Homo sapiens: one gene and its partners. The protein of the gene in region 3 interacts with the protein of the main gene of each other region in a biochemical or structural test. Each region holds a gene or a part of one and is shown on either strand. Other genes may lie near its edges.

Evidence for each region. The genes of interacting proteins can lie anywhere in the genome.
Region 1: the proteins of DGKK (region 3) and MPP3 interact in a test that uses a peptide from one of them, tested with the Homo sapiens proteins (one large-scale study listed by IntAct).
Region 2: the proteins of DGKK (region 3) and RGS3 interact in a test that uses a peptide from one of them, tested with the Homo sapiens proteins (one large-scale study listed by IntAct).
Region 4: the proteins of DGKK (region 3) and DEPTOR interact in a test that uses a peptide from one of them, tested with the Homo sapiens proteins (one large-scale study listed by IntAct).

Annotation. Positions count from the first base shown.
Region 1 is NC_000017.11:43,826,647-43,830,146, reverse strand, and holds part of MPP3 (MAGUK p55 subfamily member 3), read left to right. Parts: intron 1-15; coding exon of another isoform or gene 16-39; coding exon 40-120; intron 121-355; coding exon 356-493; intron 494-2,314; coding exon 2,315-2,396; intron 2,397-3,500. UniProt on the Homo sapiens protein: Participates in cell spreading through the phosphoinositide-3-kinase (PI3K) pathway by connecting CADM1 to DLG1 and the regulatory subunit of phosphoinositide-3-kinase (PI3K). Stabilizes HTR2C at the plasma membrane and prevents its desensitization.
Region 2 is NC_000009.12:113,470,227-113,473,726, reverse strand, and holds part of RGS3 (regulator of G-protein signaling 3), read right to left. Parts: intron 1-3,500. UniProt on the Homo sapiens protein: Down-regulates signaling from heterotrimeric G-proteins by increasing the GTPase activity of the alpha subunits, thereby driving them into their inactive GDP-bound form.
Region 3 is NC_000023.11:50,464,326-50,467,825, forward strand, and holds part of DGKK (diacylglycerol kinase kappa), read right to left. Parts: intron 1-3,500. UniProt on the Homo sapiens protein: Diacylglycerol kinase that converts diacylglycerol/DAG into phosphatidic acid/phosphatidate/PA and regulates the respective levels of these two bioactive lipids.
Region 4 is NC_000008.11:120,048,070-120,051,418, reverse strand, and holds the end of DEPTOR (DEP domain-containing mTOR-interacting protein), read right to left. Parts: intron 1,844-3,349; coding exon 1,715-1,843; 3' UTR 501-1,714; downstream 1-500. UniProt on the Homo sapiens protein: Negative regulator of the mTORC1 and mTORC2 complexes: inhibits the protein kinase activity of MTOR, thereby inactivating both complexes. DEPTOR inhibits mTORC1 and mTORC2 to induce autophagy.

The DNA.
Region 1 (3,500 bases), on a different chromosome or scaffold from region 3:
ACCTCTAGCCATCAGTGGCGCCTGTCTCATTCTCTGCAGGTGATGGAGGAGTTGCAGGCCGCCTCCGTGCACAGTGATGAGAGGGAGCTGCTCCAGCTGCTGTCCACCCCGCACCTGAGGGTAGTCACACAGAGCCCCTGCCCAGCCATGCCTCTGGGTCTCCTGGGATGGGGGCGGAGGGAGCTCTCCTAATGAGGCTGAGGAGTGGAGACTGAGGGAGCGATCCTCAGCACTAGTGTCTGGGCAGTTGTCTCTCTGGCATGGCGTCTGCCACCCTCCATACCACCGGCCAGCTGCGGCCTGCTGACCCTGTGAGCGGCGGGCCAGCCTTCCTTTTCTCTGGCTTTCCCGGCAGGCTGTGCTCATGGTACATGACACGGTTGCCCAGAAGAATTTTGACCCCGTTCTCCCGCCTCTGCCTGACAATATCGATGAGGATTTTGATGAGGAATCGGTGAAGATCGTCCGCTTGGTGAAGAACAAGGAACCCCTGGTAGGTGCTGCTGCCTGCCCCTCTCTAACCCACTCTTCCCCTGCCTCTCACCCCCACCCAGAACACTGGACAAGATCCTCCCCGAAGTCTTCAGAGTGAGTGACGGCAGCTTTGCCTGCGCTGCTGCTCATCCCTGTGGTGCCTCTGTGTGCAGGGCACCCCTTTCTCTAGGTGGATACAGCCCCTCTCAACTGTGGCCAACACCCTTTGTGTAGTTAATAACCTGCACAATTGTACAGGGTGACCCTGATCATGCTTTAAGCCAGAAATGGACAAACTACAGCCCAAGGGCCAAAACCAGCCCACAGCTTATTTTTTAAAATAAAGCTTTTTTGGAGCACAACCAGGCCCATTCACTTACAGATTGGCTGTGGCTGCCTTTATAGTGCGATGGCAGAGTTGAGTCGTTGTGACAGAGACTGTGTGGCTGGCCTCAAATATTTACATGTGGCCCCTTATAGAAAACGTGTGACAATGCCTGCTCTGAATGTTGAGGAAGCACAGGGCATTCCTCTCCCCAGCAGACAGACTGCTATCACTTTGGTCCTGGTTCAGCATTGATTTACCGAGCAAAGGGACAGCGTTGTTTATGAGATGCTCAGAAGTGGTGGAAGCCCAGAGAATTGAGATTGGCTCCAGAGGATCCCACAGCTGGCATTCTCTATTTCCAACTTTCCCCAAATGACCTCCGACGAGCCTCTTCTGCAAACAGACGAGGATCTCTCCTCTGCCTCTGTTTCCTCACTTGTAAAATGGAGTGGCCATCCATTGATTTAGCAAACACATTGTGAGCCCTCCTATCCAGGCTCTGTATTGGGTGCTGGCGGTTCAGAGCTGAATAAATGATGGATAGCGATGCTGGAAAGTTCTCAGTTCTGGGGGGCTAGAAGTCCTGAGGTTCTTAGCTGATGGCCTCTCTTTCTAGCAATAATTATCTTACGTACTTCAAATAGATGGCACAGATGATGTTAACAATAAGTGTGCAAATGTGTTTGCAGTTACAGCCACTAATAAGTGGTTAACATATGTTGAGTGCTTACTGTGTACTAAGTGCCTTGAGTGGAATCCTTGCAACAACACTGTGAGTTAAATGCTGTCCCACATCTCACAGGAAACAGGCTTGGAGAGGATAAGAGATTTCCTTGTTAAGTCCACATGCTTTTTGTAAACGGCAGAACTGTGTTCACACCCAAGGCTGTCCAGCCCTAGAGCTTAGCTCTTAAGCTTTCTGCCGTCCTGCTGCAGTCCGGCCTGTGTGGTGCAGGAAATCGAGGGCTCGTTAGTGCCTTTCTCATCCTAAGTGTCATCTCTGCTGTGCTTCATGGGCCAAGTCCTGGTCCCGAAGCCCTGGCTGGGGTGCATAATTGGTTTCCCTCAGCAGCAGCAGAAGGCCCGGTAACCCTGTGATTGGGTAGAGGCAGGGTGAGAATTAGCTGGCACGTGTCATCCTCATTATTAAATGTCTTTGCAAGTGGTAGGAACTGTGATATGAGAGAGATGTGATGGAGAACTTACTGGATTTGGCATCACAAAAAGCTTTCCCCTTTACCAGCTGGGTGACCTTGAGGATATTTAACTTCTCTGAGCCCCAGTCCCTCATCTAAAATGTTGCAGCATTATTGTGCCTTGTAAACTGTACAGTGCAGGGCTATATTAATGGGGGATGTTGGTTTTGTTTTGTCTTCAGCATTGGGAAGGTCCCCACTGATCTCTCTGGACTGTCAGAGGGAGGGACTGGGGAGGCTGTGTTGGGTCCAGAGAGTAGGGGTCTGAGGTTTGGAGCTGCTGCTTAAGAACCTGTCTCTTCTGTCTCGGGTTCAGGGTGCCACCATCCGGCGGGACGAGCACTCAGGGGCTGTTGTGGTGGCCAGGATCATGCGAGGAGGCGCAGCAGACAGGAGCGGTGAGTGGCGGCAGTGCAAAGCTGGCCCAGCCCCGATCATGGCCATTGTTCCAGAGCCCTCCACCTTTGCTAATAGGTCCCCTTACCTCCCTCCTATCAGGTCACCTGTTTGGGATTTGCTTTGCTTTCTGGGGTTGTGGCTGGAATTCTCATCTCCTTCCCAAGTCAGTAGAAATTTTAATAGAAAATATAGGCCAGCTGGGCATGGTGGTGCACACCTGTAATCCCAGCACTTTAAGAGGCCGAGGCAGGCGGATCACTTGAAGCCAGGAGTTCCAGACCAGCCTAGCCAACATGGCGAAACCCCATTTCTACTAAACACACAAACCTGGGAGGCGGAGGTTGCAGTGAGCCAAGATCATGCTGCTGCACTCCAGTCTGGGCAACAGAGTGAGACTCTGTCTCAAAAAAAAAAAAAAAAGAAAAAAAAAAAAAAGCCAGGCACAGTGGCTCACGCCTGTAATCCCAGCATTTTGGGAGGCCGAGGTGGGCGGATCACCTGAGGTCGGGAGTTCGAGACCAGCCTGACCCACACAGAGAAACCCCATCTCTACTAAAAATACAAAATTAGCCAGGCTTGGTGGCACATGCCTATAATCACAGCTACTTGGGAAGGCTGAGGCAAGAGAATCGCTTGAATCTGGGAGGTGGAGGTTGCAGTGAGCCGAGATCGCGCCATTGCGCTCCCGCCTGGGCAACAAGAGTGAAATTCCGTCTCAAAAAAAAGAAAAAAAGAAAAAGAAAATATAGGCCATGCACGGGTGGCCCACACCTGTAGTCCTAGCTGTTCGGGAGGCCCAGGCAGGAAGATTGTTTGAGCCCAGGAGTTTGAGGTTGCAGTGAGCCGTGATTACACCACTACACTCTAGAGTGGGCGACGCAGTGAGACCGTCTCAAAAAAAAAAGAAAAAAAAAAAAAATATATATATATATAAATAGTCATGGAGTACTTTGGGGTGATTGAGAAAAAGCTCATGCGTTGGTTTAGTCCAAGGACTGTGACAGTTAAGAATATAGCATGGGCTTGCGGGATTACTAACTGTGGGACAGGGTTGACACCCTTCCCCACCATCCCAGGTCTTGTCAAGCTACTATTACAAAGAG
Region 2 (3,500 bases), on a different chromosome or scaffold from region 3:
CAGGCAAGGAAGCTGAAGATTATTAAGAGGTAAACAGGTTGGCTGGGCATGGTGGCTCACACCTGTAATCCCAACACTTTGGGAGGCTGAGGCAGGATGATCACTTGAGGCCAGGAGTTTGAGACCAGTCTAGGCAACATAGCAAGACTCTGTCTCTCCAAAAACGTTTTTTTAAAATTAGCCGGACGTGGTGGTGTGTACCTGTAGTCCCAGCTACTCAGGAGGCTGAGGTGGGAGGATCACTGGAGCCCAGGAGGTTGAGGCTGTAGTGAGCCATGATCACACCACTGCACTCCAGCCTGGGCAACAGAGTGAGACCCCAACTCAAAAAAAAGAAAATAGCTAAAACAGGTTGTCCAAATCACACAGCCAGTAAGTGGCAGAGCTGGGGTTTGCATTTAGGCAGTCCAGGGCCCCCACTGTTAGCCTCTCTATACCTATCATGGGTTTAAAATTTGTCCACAAAGTCTTTGATACTCTTCCTTTCAAGAGGTGAAGCCTAGTTCCTCCCTTCAGACATGGGCTGGACTTAGTGACTTGCTTCTAACAAATAGAATGTGGTAGAAATGACAGTGGATGACTTTCAACATTAGGATATTAAAGGTATTATTAGTTCCTTCTTTTTTTAACAGCTGTATTGGGATATAATTAACATATCATACATTTCATCAGTTTTGTTTATTATTGAGATGGAGTCTCACTCTGTCGCCCAGGCTGGAGTGCAATGACATGATCTCAGCTCACTGTAACCTCTGCCTCCCAGGTTCAAATTATTCTCCTGTCTCAGCCTCCTGAGTAGCTGGGATTACAGGCATGCACCACCCACACCTGGCCAATTTTTTGTATTTTTTGTAGAGACAGAGTTTCACCATGTTGGCCAGGCTGCTCTCGAACTCCTGACCTTAGATGATCCACCCGCCTCAGCCTCCCAAAGTGCTGGGATTGAGCCACCGTGCACGGCCACACTTCACCAATTTAAAGCATGTAATTTTCTTTTAGTATATTCACAGGATTCTGTAATCAATCACCTCTATCTAATTTTAGAACATTTTCATCCTCCCCTAAAAGAAATCCCATACTCTTTCGCAGTCACACCCTATTCCCTTCTCCCCTCAGCCCTTGTCAACCACTAATCTGCTTTCTGTCTCTAAGGACTTGCCTATTCTGGATACTTATGTAAACAGAATCACACAACGCATGGTCTTTTGTGATTGACTTCTTTCACTTAGCATAATGTTTTCAAGGTTCACCCATATTGTAGCACGTATCAGTATTTTAGTCCCTTTGTGGCCAAATAATATTCCATTGTATGGATATACCACATTTTGTTTATCCACTCATCTGGTGATGGATATTTCAGGTTATTTCGACTTTTTGGCTACTATGAATAATGCCGTTATGAACATGTGTGTGTGTACACATGTTTGTGTGAGCATGTGTTTTCATTCCTCTTGGATTTATACCTAAGAGTGGAATTGCTGGGTCAAATGGAAACTCTACATTTAATTGTTTGAGGAACCGCCAAACTTTTCCAAAGTGGTTGCACCATTTGACATTCCGGCCGGCAGTGTACAAGGGTTCCAATTTCCCCTCAACTTCTTCAACGCCTGTTATTGGCTCTTTTTTTATTATAGTCATTCTAGTATGATAGTATCTCATTGTGGTTTTGATTTGCATTTCCCTGATAACTAATGACATTGAGCATTTTTTCACATGCTGTTAGCCATTTTTCTTTGGAAAAAAATGTCTATTCAAATCCTTTACCCATTTTTGAGCTGGGTTACTCATCTTTTTATGGGAGTTCTTTCTTGCTTTCATTTTTGTATCACTTGCCTAGAAGGAAGCCAGCTGCCACATAATAAGGAAGCTCAAGCAATCCTACGAAGAGGTCCATGCGATGAGAAACAGAAGCCTCCTAATTACAGGTAGCAAGGAACTGAGGCCTCCTGCTGAGAGCCATGTGAATGAGCCATCTTGGAAAGGGACCCTCCAGCCCCAGTAATGCCTGCTCGGACAACTGCAGGTAGGCAGGCAGGCAGGGAGAAAGAAAGGAGGGACGGAGAGAGAGAGCGGGGAGGGGAGGAAGGGACGGAAGAGGCAGGGAGGGAGGAGAAAAGGAGGGAGAGAGGCAGAAAGGGAGGGAAAAAAAAACAAAAACCAACTCAAAAAAGCTTAGAAAATATATGTAGGGGACTTCCATTTCTGGGATGACAGATCCACTGAGGAAAACTAGAAATGCTAAACAAAATATGTTAAAGCATCTTCTTAGATAAACAACAAGAGAGAGAGGAGCTACCAGGCAGGATCTAGGGGAATGGAGGACTGTAGAAGGAAACCTAGTGTTTTTCTGGGCTAATTTCCTCCTGGGGTGTTTTCAAATTCCAGAGGGCTGATTGAGAGATCAAGAGACTGAGTGAGTTTCTGCCTGCTTCTCAGGGCTAGAGGAATAGGAACTAGGGACCAGGGCCCACCAAGAAGCAGGGTTCTTCTGAGCCCCACCTTTTGCATAGGGACCCTGAAGGGTTGCTCCATAGGAATAGAGTGAACTGTAATCAGACACAGCTACTCCAGGGACTACAGCTCGATTTCAAGTACTCTCAGTCCCAACACTGAATTAAGACTAACCCAGTGACCCTAGGCACCTGACAAACGAACAAAGATTTTTTGAAGGAAAATATCATCCTAGGTCTGCATTGAGAAGAAAATAATAATAATAACAACAACTCTCTGCCTATACTGTTTGTTTGTTGTTTGTTTGTTTTGAGTCAGGGTCTCACTCTGACACCCAGGCTAGGGTACAGTATCACAATCACAGCTCACTGTAGTCTTGACCTCCTAGGCTCAAGTGATCCTCCTTCCTCAGCCTCCCAAGTAGCTAGGACCACAGGTGCACACCATCATGCCCAGCTAATTTTTTTATTTTTTGTAGAGATGAGCTCTCACTATGTTGCCCACACTGGTCTCGAACTTCTGGGCTTGAGTGATCCTCCTGCCTTGGCCTCCCAAAGTGCTGGGATTATAAGCATGGGCCACTCACCACTCCCAGCCATGTGCCTGTTCTTTGCAGCAGACACAGCACACCTACAATGTAGATCCAAAAAGGTTGAAAGAAAAAGGATGGAAAAAGATATGTCAGGCAAATATTAAATGAAAGAAGCATGGTTAGCTATGTTAATATCAGGAAAATTAGACTTTATACCTACTAGAAATAAAGAAGACTTCATAACAATAATAGATTTCATAATAAAAATTTCAGCTCACCAGAAAGATAATAATTCTAAATCTGTATGTTGTTAACATAGCTTCAACATATGTAAAGGAAAAACTGACAGAACTGCAATGGGAAATAGACAAATTTACAATCACAGTGGGAATTCTAATACACCTCTCTTAGGAACTGACAGAGAAAACAGGAAAAATCAACAAGGATACGGAATATTTGAACAATATAAAGAGCAAACTTGACCTAAACTTGACATACACAAAGAACACTGCACCCA
Region 3 (3,500 bases):
TTTATGCTCTTTAGTCATGGAGGAGTGGTATTTCTTTTGTCCCTCCCTCCCGCACCCCCCGCGCCCCTGCTTCTTGGAATTAAAAATTCTGGAGATTTGGTATAGTCAGGGACCTATCCTTTAATATTTCTTTCTTTTTTTAATTAAAATGTGTGTATCTAGAGGGGAGGATTCGTAAATTTCATTAACTTTTATGATTTTTGAGAATATCTGCCCTTAAAAAGATTTCCTTTTTTTGTTTGTTTTCCTTAATTTCTTTTTTTTTAATTGAAGGGGTGGCAAATAAAGGTTATTATCCTTGGCGAGGTTGAAGATCCTTTAAGAGGATCTCCCTTTCTTTTAGTTCCTTTTTTCAATTTTGTTTGTTTTTTGTTTTTGGGAGAATAATAGGTCTCTTATCTTGTGGTTAGAGGGATGGTATCTTTCTTTGAACTATTTTTAAAAATTGAGATGTAATTTACATACCATAAAATTCATCATCTTAACATACACAATTTTGTGGGTTTTATTGTATCCACAGTGTTGTGCACCCATCACCATTCTCTGATTTTAGAACATTTTAATCACCCTCAAAAGAAACCCTGTACTCTTTAGCCATCATCCCCTTTTCCACCTCCCATATTGCTTCCCTCATTTCCTTTCCATCTCTAAGGATTTGCCTCCTCTGCACATTTTATGTAATCGGGAAAATAATGTCAGGAAGCTTTGATGAGGTTGGGGGACCTTCCCTTTATTTTTGCCCCCTTAATTTTCTCAAGAGATTAAGCATGAGCCATGAAGTCAAATAAAGTTTACAAATTTCATGAATATTTTAAGGTTAGAAATACTGTTTAACTTAAGATGATTTCTCTTTTTTCATCTTAAAATTTTTCTTTGGGGGATATAAGTTCCATGGGCTTTGATGAGGGTGAGGATAACTTCCTTTTAGAAGCTGTTTCTTTTTTTTTCTTAAAATAATTTTCAGAGGAGAGATAAATTTCATTATCTGGGGTCACTGTCCCTTTCTTTTCGTTTTTAAAATTCATAAATTTGTTTTTATTATTTTGAGAATGAGCTCTATTTGCTTTGGTGAGGGTGGGGCATCTCCCTTTAGAATGGCTGCTTGCTTGCTTTTTTTTTTTTCCTTTAAAATTATTTTTTTTCCACTGAAAGAATTACAGTGGGTGGGCTTTGGAAAGGTCGGGCACCCTATCCTTAGCAGGATTTCAATTTATTTCCTTTACAAAACACACACGCACCAACAAAAAAGGTCTTTGTGAGTAATCGGTTCAGGGTCTCTGCCTCTTCTCGTTTCTTCTCTGGCTCCTCTTCTATGCTGGCCCCCTCTGGGAGCATCAGAAGTGGAGCAGCAACCACCGCTTTGGAAAAAAATTCAGAGCTGATGAAATGTCAGCTAAAAGACTGTTCTTAGACAAATGAGGATCCTATGTATCACAAAAGGCCATATGTCAGATTTTTAAAAAAATCTACAATAGAAAATTCAATCATTACATCCTATAAGCTGTCAAGTTTTATTTTTGCCCTCCCCCACCTGCTGCCTTGTTCAAGGAAATAAAAGGGTTAATAATGCAGAGGCAAGCACTCTGTAAACTGTAAAGTGCCACAGGAGCAGAAGGAACTATATAATCCTTATTAGAATACCCCTGAATGGTTTCCTGGTTTCTATGGATATTTTTTTCTTTTTCTTTTTTCTTTTTTTTTTTTTTTTTTTTTTTTGCCTTTCCTTGGAGGCACTTTCCCTTTGGGCTGCAGATCTGCAGAAGCCCTAGTCGGAGATTTTAATAAGTGCATAAGAATTGTACTCTGAGAAACTAAAGACCACTGACCAATACTTCATTATCTTTTCTAGAACACCCTGTAGTGACTGCTTAGGAACTATTAGAATACACCAAATAAATCAGATGGTATCATCAAAGCTTGGCAAGGAGGGGGGAAAAACTGAAGAGAAAAGAAAGTAATTTCATTCTGACCTTCAACAGGTTAAACATCTGAATCTATAATCCCAAATCTGTTTACAGTCACTGCAGATACTCTGTTCACTTAGGAAAAAAATTTATTATCCCCTGAAGCTAACAATATCATTATTAGTCTGCTGCTGCTGGGACTGCATGGGATAAGGACACTTTCCAAGCCATTAATAAAAATTGTTAGTAATTTGCTTCTTAATTATAGTTCCAATAACCACTCTGAAAATGGAAAGATTGACTGTATTTCCTTAAGGGCTATATATTCCATGCCATTTAAATAAGTATTTACTTCTCACTCTGAAACCAATGAGAACAAATTTTTATTCATTCACAGCAGCAGCCTCTACATTGCTGGAAATGGATAGTTTTCAAGCTTCAGCAAGTGTTTATTAAGCAAAATCAAGGAGGGCTGCATTGAACTAGGCACTGAGAAAGGCCACCCCTATTTTTGAGAAGCTCAGAAATCACTAATAAAATATTGATAGGAATCACCAGATATCATATAAACAAATGCTTGCTATTTTGCAAGAAAATGTACAAAAATATCAGTTTTGTGCATAAAAGCTGTCCTGATATGGTTTGAGGATAATGGTTATTACTGTGCAGTCATCAGGAGGGATACACAGACCCCTTTTATCTCCCCCAAAAGCCATGAAAGTGTATCTCCCCTCAGATTTTCATCAATCATTTGTATGATGTGATTTTCATTTCATAGCTGGTCAAAACCCAATGAATAAACAAAATTTTGTCTTTCTTCAAGCACAGCTGATGAGAGAGAAAGAAACATGGTCTACTTCATATAAGCCCCATCCCTCCCCCAAGAGAGTTATAGCATTGCTAAAGAACCAATTCACACATCCTTACTTACACTTGCTGCCACCAGGTGGGAGACCATGGCTCATTTCCTGGGAATTGAAACATTTTAGAAAGGAAAGAAATAGACATGTTTGGTTCACAGACTGACTGTGTTATCCTGGTAGCTATTTGAAAAGAAAACATGAGCCCCCTTTTCTCAGTCAATTGCAGGTTCTGAAACTTTCCTGAAATTCCAAAAAAGAGCAGACTACAAGGCTGAAAGATGTTGGTTTTTTGCTACAATACCAGTCAACAAAATTATCTGGGAGAAACTTGCAGTCATATTCAAACACTTGGTTTTGCTCATTTCATCCTTTGAATTATCAGGATAGTTTCATGCTTGCTATGGAGGATTTCATTGCATGATGAGACCTGTATTTTGTTTTGTTCCCTGACATTTTGGGCACATATGTATAGTATGTGTGTGTGTTAGGGGTGTGTGCACGCCTGTGCGTGTTGCACAGTTTTTTCCCCCCAAGCTTGCCTCGAGGAGGCAGTGTTTGAAAACAACATCACCCCAGCTAAGATGACAACCTGTTTGCCTTGAATGTTAAGATACAAGCCAGCTGGTTGCAGGTGCCATTTGTCTGAGGAAGATGCAGGAGAGAATGATCCTATCACTGAAGATCAGATGTTCCCAGCTGCACCAGAGAGCAATTGCATAGCAACATTGAGGGT
Region 4 (3,349 bases), on a different chromosome or scaffold from region 3:
AAACCCTCAATATAAGGTCCTTAAATGGGGAAAAGTTGAGGGGAGTAACATGGGATTTAGCGTTAAACCTGTGTTTACATTCAGCCTATTTCACCTAGTAGTTCCTGCAGCCGTGTGAATTTAGAGACCATTTTAAAACTTGCTCAGGCTTAGTTTCCACATCTGAAAAATGTGGACGTTAATATCTACCTTGCAAGGTTGCATTGAGGGTTAAAGGATATCATATATATTAAATGCACAGAGCCTGCCATACAGTACAAATGCACACCCACACAGAGGTGATAGTATTTCTCAAATGTATATCAACAGTATTACTGTTAGACATTCTCTGTCACTCCAAAATCCTATTCTCTGACTAAAGCTACAAATCAGAAAAGTTGGATTACCAGAAATATATATATATATATATATATATATATATATGTCTATAACATATTTAGCACGGTAGGTCCATTCCACCAGTACCTATACATTACGATAACCTAATGAAAAGAAATGGCTGTGGTACAATTCTCATATTTTATTTTGTTAATGCATGATAAAAAATTAACGTCATCATTCAGATCCATTATTTGGAATGAAGAATTTAGTATTTCCTGACTGCCTAATTTGGCACTTTGAGGAATTTCCTCTGCACGCTGAGCCCCAAAATGCACTATTTTCTAGACCAAAAATGAAAACGTGCGTATATACAAGTGAGCTGAAAAGTTACAACACAAGATGATCATTTTGGTGAAAAATAATCCCCCCAAATAAGCAGCATGTCATGTCCTTAGAATATGTTACACTAGAAAGCTAGTAAAAATTCAGGCTAAGGAGGCAATTTAGAGTTCAAGTTTTATCACATATCAGCAAAGTTTTAGCCTTCCCTTAAAAACAGACACCTTCAAAGTGAAATCTTGCCAGAAGGGTTGATTTTTAATTATGTGTATATACAAACTTCTCTATTTTAACATTCAACATATTCAGGATTAATTCTAGAAAGATGCTATAGCTGATTTATAAAACAAAATGATTTAGGATCAGAAAGAAAATAGGGGCACACAATTTCATGTAGTCTCTCCCTAACTACCCCCAACCATAGCATCACAAGGTTTTTTTTTTTCCTAATGCCACAATTGAAACCTGTATTAACTTAAAAGTTGACACTAAAGGCAGGAATTAAGAAGTCATTTTTTATGGCTTTTAAGCACTTGAATGCTTTAGAACCCCCTTGAAAATGCTAGTGAACAGGTCTTATTCCTTTAAATGTTGCTTTGATTTGAATCTTGGTGAAATCTAGATTCCCTATTAAATAGCTGCATGCTAATTTTGGAGAAAGTACAATTTAAAACCTTTAACAACTACTCTATTGACTCTGAAGAAGGGGACTTTAGCATGTCGCTGTTTGGGCTAGAGAAGCATTTCAACACCTTTCTGCAAACTAAGATAAAAAACAATGAATGAGAGCTACAAATAGAAATCTAGTAAGGCAGTTCTATCATGTAGGAAAATGGTTTCCCAAATGTTTTCTACACTGACATTTTTTAAAAAAGATATGATACCCGGTTCTTCCACATTCAGTGTATAAAACTCAACTTTAGACATGTATGTGCGGAGAAGACTCGTATGTCCAAAACCATCCATTTGCATGGCAATCTTGTCTTTGCATTGCTTTGTGTCATTCTGGCTTCCCTCACCCACAGGCCACTGGAGGGCTGGGAGGCCCAGGAGCTCAGCACTCTAACTCCTCCATGACTTCCATGACAATCGTCCGTGGGCCCGTCAGAATCAGATTGCTCACGGTCCGGTAGTCTACATGCAGGACATTGAGCCCGTTGACAGAGACGACAAACTGACAGACCTAAAGGAAAGATGCAAAGAAAGAGCATCTATTATAGCGCCTGGTTTTGCACAAAGCTTTAATAAAGACAGTGTGTAGCCCTAACAGGTAACTTCATTCTTAAAATATCCAAATGTATCCAGCTGACGACTCCAATTCAATAATTTCCAAGGAGCTACACATTTTCTGGAAGGCAGTATAATTTAAAAAAAAAAAAATCGTTTTAGTGTTTTACAAAATTTGGCTTAAATCCTAACTCAGAGACATACTAGCTTTAGCTAGTATTTAAATACTAGCTAGGTATTTAAATTTCTGAGCTTTATTTCCCTCAACCCTAAAATAAGAATTAATAATAATAATAAGAGTAATACCTACCTTATAAGACTGTTGTAAGAATTAATGACATATATAGTTTCTACTTGCAGTAATTCACAGGCATGCTTGCTCCCAATTATTAATTATTAGTGTTGAGGACTCAACCAAAGAATGTAAAAAATACCAAAACACCTTGGGAACCATCATTTCCTTTTATTGTTTTCTGTGTGGGTAATATCGATGTAAACTTAAACATGATATTAAGTCCAAAAATATCTATACTTATTACTTAGATACAACAAAATTGGAGAGTACTGGGAAGAGTATTGGAAAGCTCTGTCACTGTGGAAAAGATGAGGGGACTTAGAATCAAAGATACAGATTTAAGTTATAGGTCCCTTTGGTGGAATACATTAATCAAGTAATTTCTCCTCTTCTATGTTTCAACGATATAAATGCCTCACTTGTACAACAGGTAAAAACGCCTATTCTCACAGGCTCACACTAGATAGTGCATTTGAAACCTCTTTGCAAACACCAAGCACTACACCGATGCTGAGTACTATTAATCTCTTTCCTTTCAAAAAATACCCACTTCTTTCACGGTCACAGGCAAAACAAAATGGAAAGCGGGCAGTAGTACACAGACTGCTTATTTACTCAATAAACACTCGCTGTTGTCATAAACCTTGATACTTTGCACTCCCCAACCTACTAGGGTGTTTTCTCCACATAAGATCACACTATTACTGTTTCTCTTTTCTTGGTTCCACAAATTTGTCTTCATGGATTCAGGGTACATCTTATACAAAATCAGCAGTTTTCAACCATGGTGGAGGTCACAGTCATAATCAAGGTCACACAAACAGGTCACAATCTATCCTGAACTAGGCCACAGTAATTTGCAAGACAATTTAGCAGTAATTTGCAATTTAGCAGGCATCAGCCTGGGCTTTGTTTTTTTCTGCTGCAGCAGACTCATGAGCCAAAGAATGAGAAGAATTTCACCTCCTTCCCAACCCAGAGCTTTAGACCCTAGACTTGGAAATTTCAAATCCCTTGTCTTTTCCACAGATACAGGGGTTTCTTTTTCCAAAAAGATGAATAGCCTTTTTGCACTGCCAAATAAGAGGGCAGGAGTTGCCAGGTGAGTGCCCTCTCCAGCTGACCCTTCGCAGGCTCCCTGAGATTAGCCATGTCTCCGCATCGCTC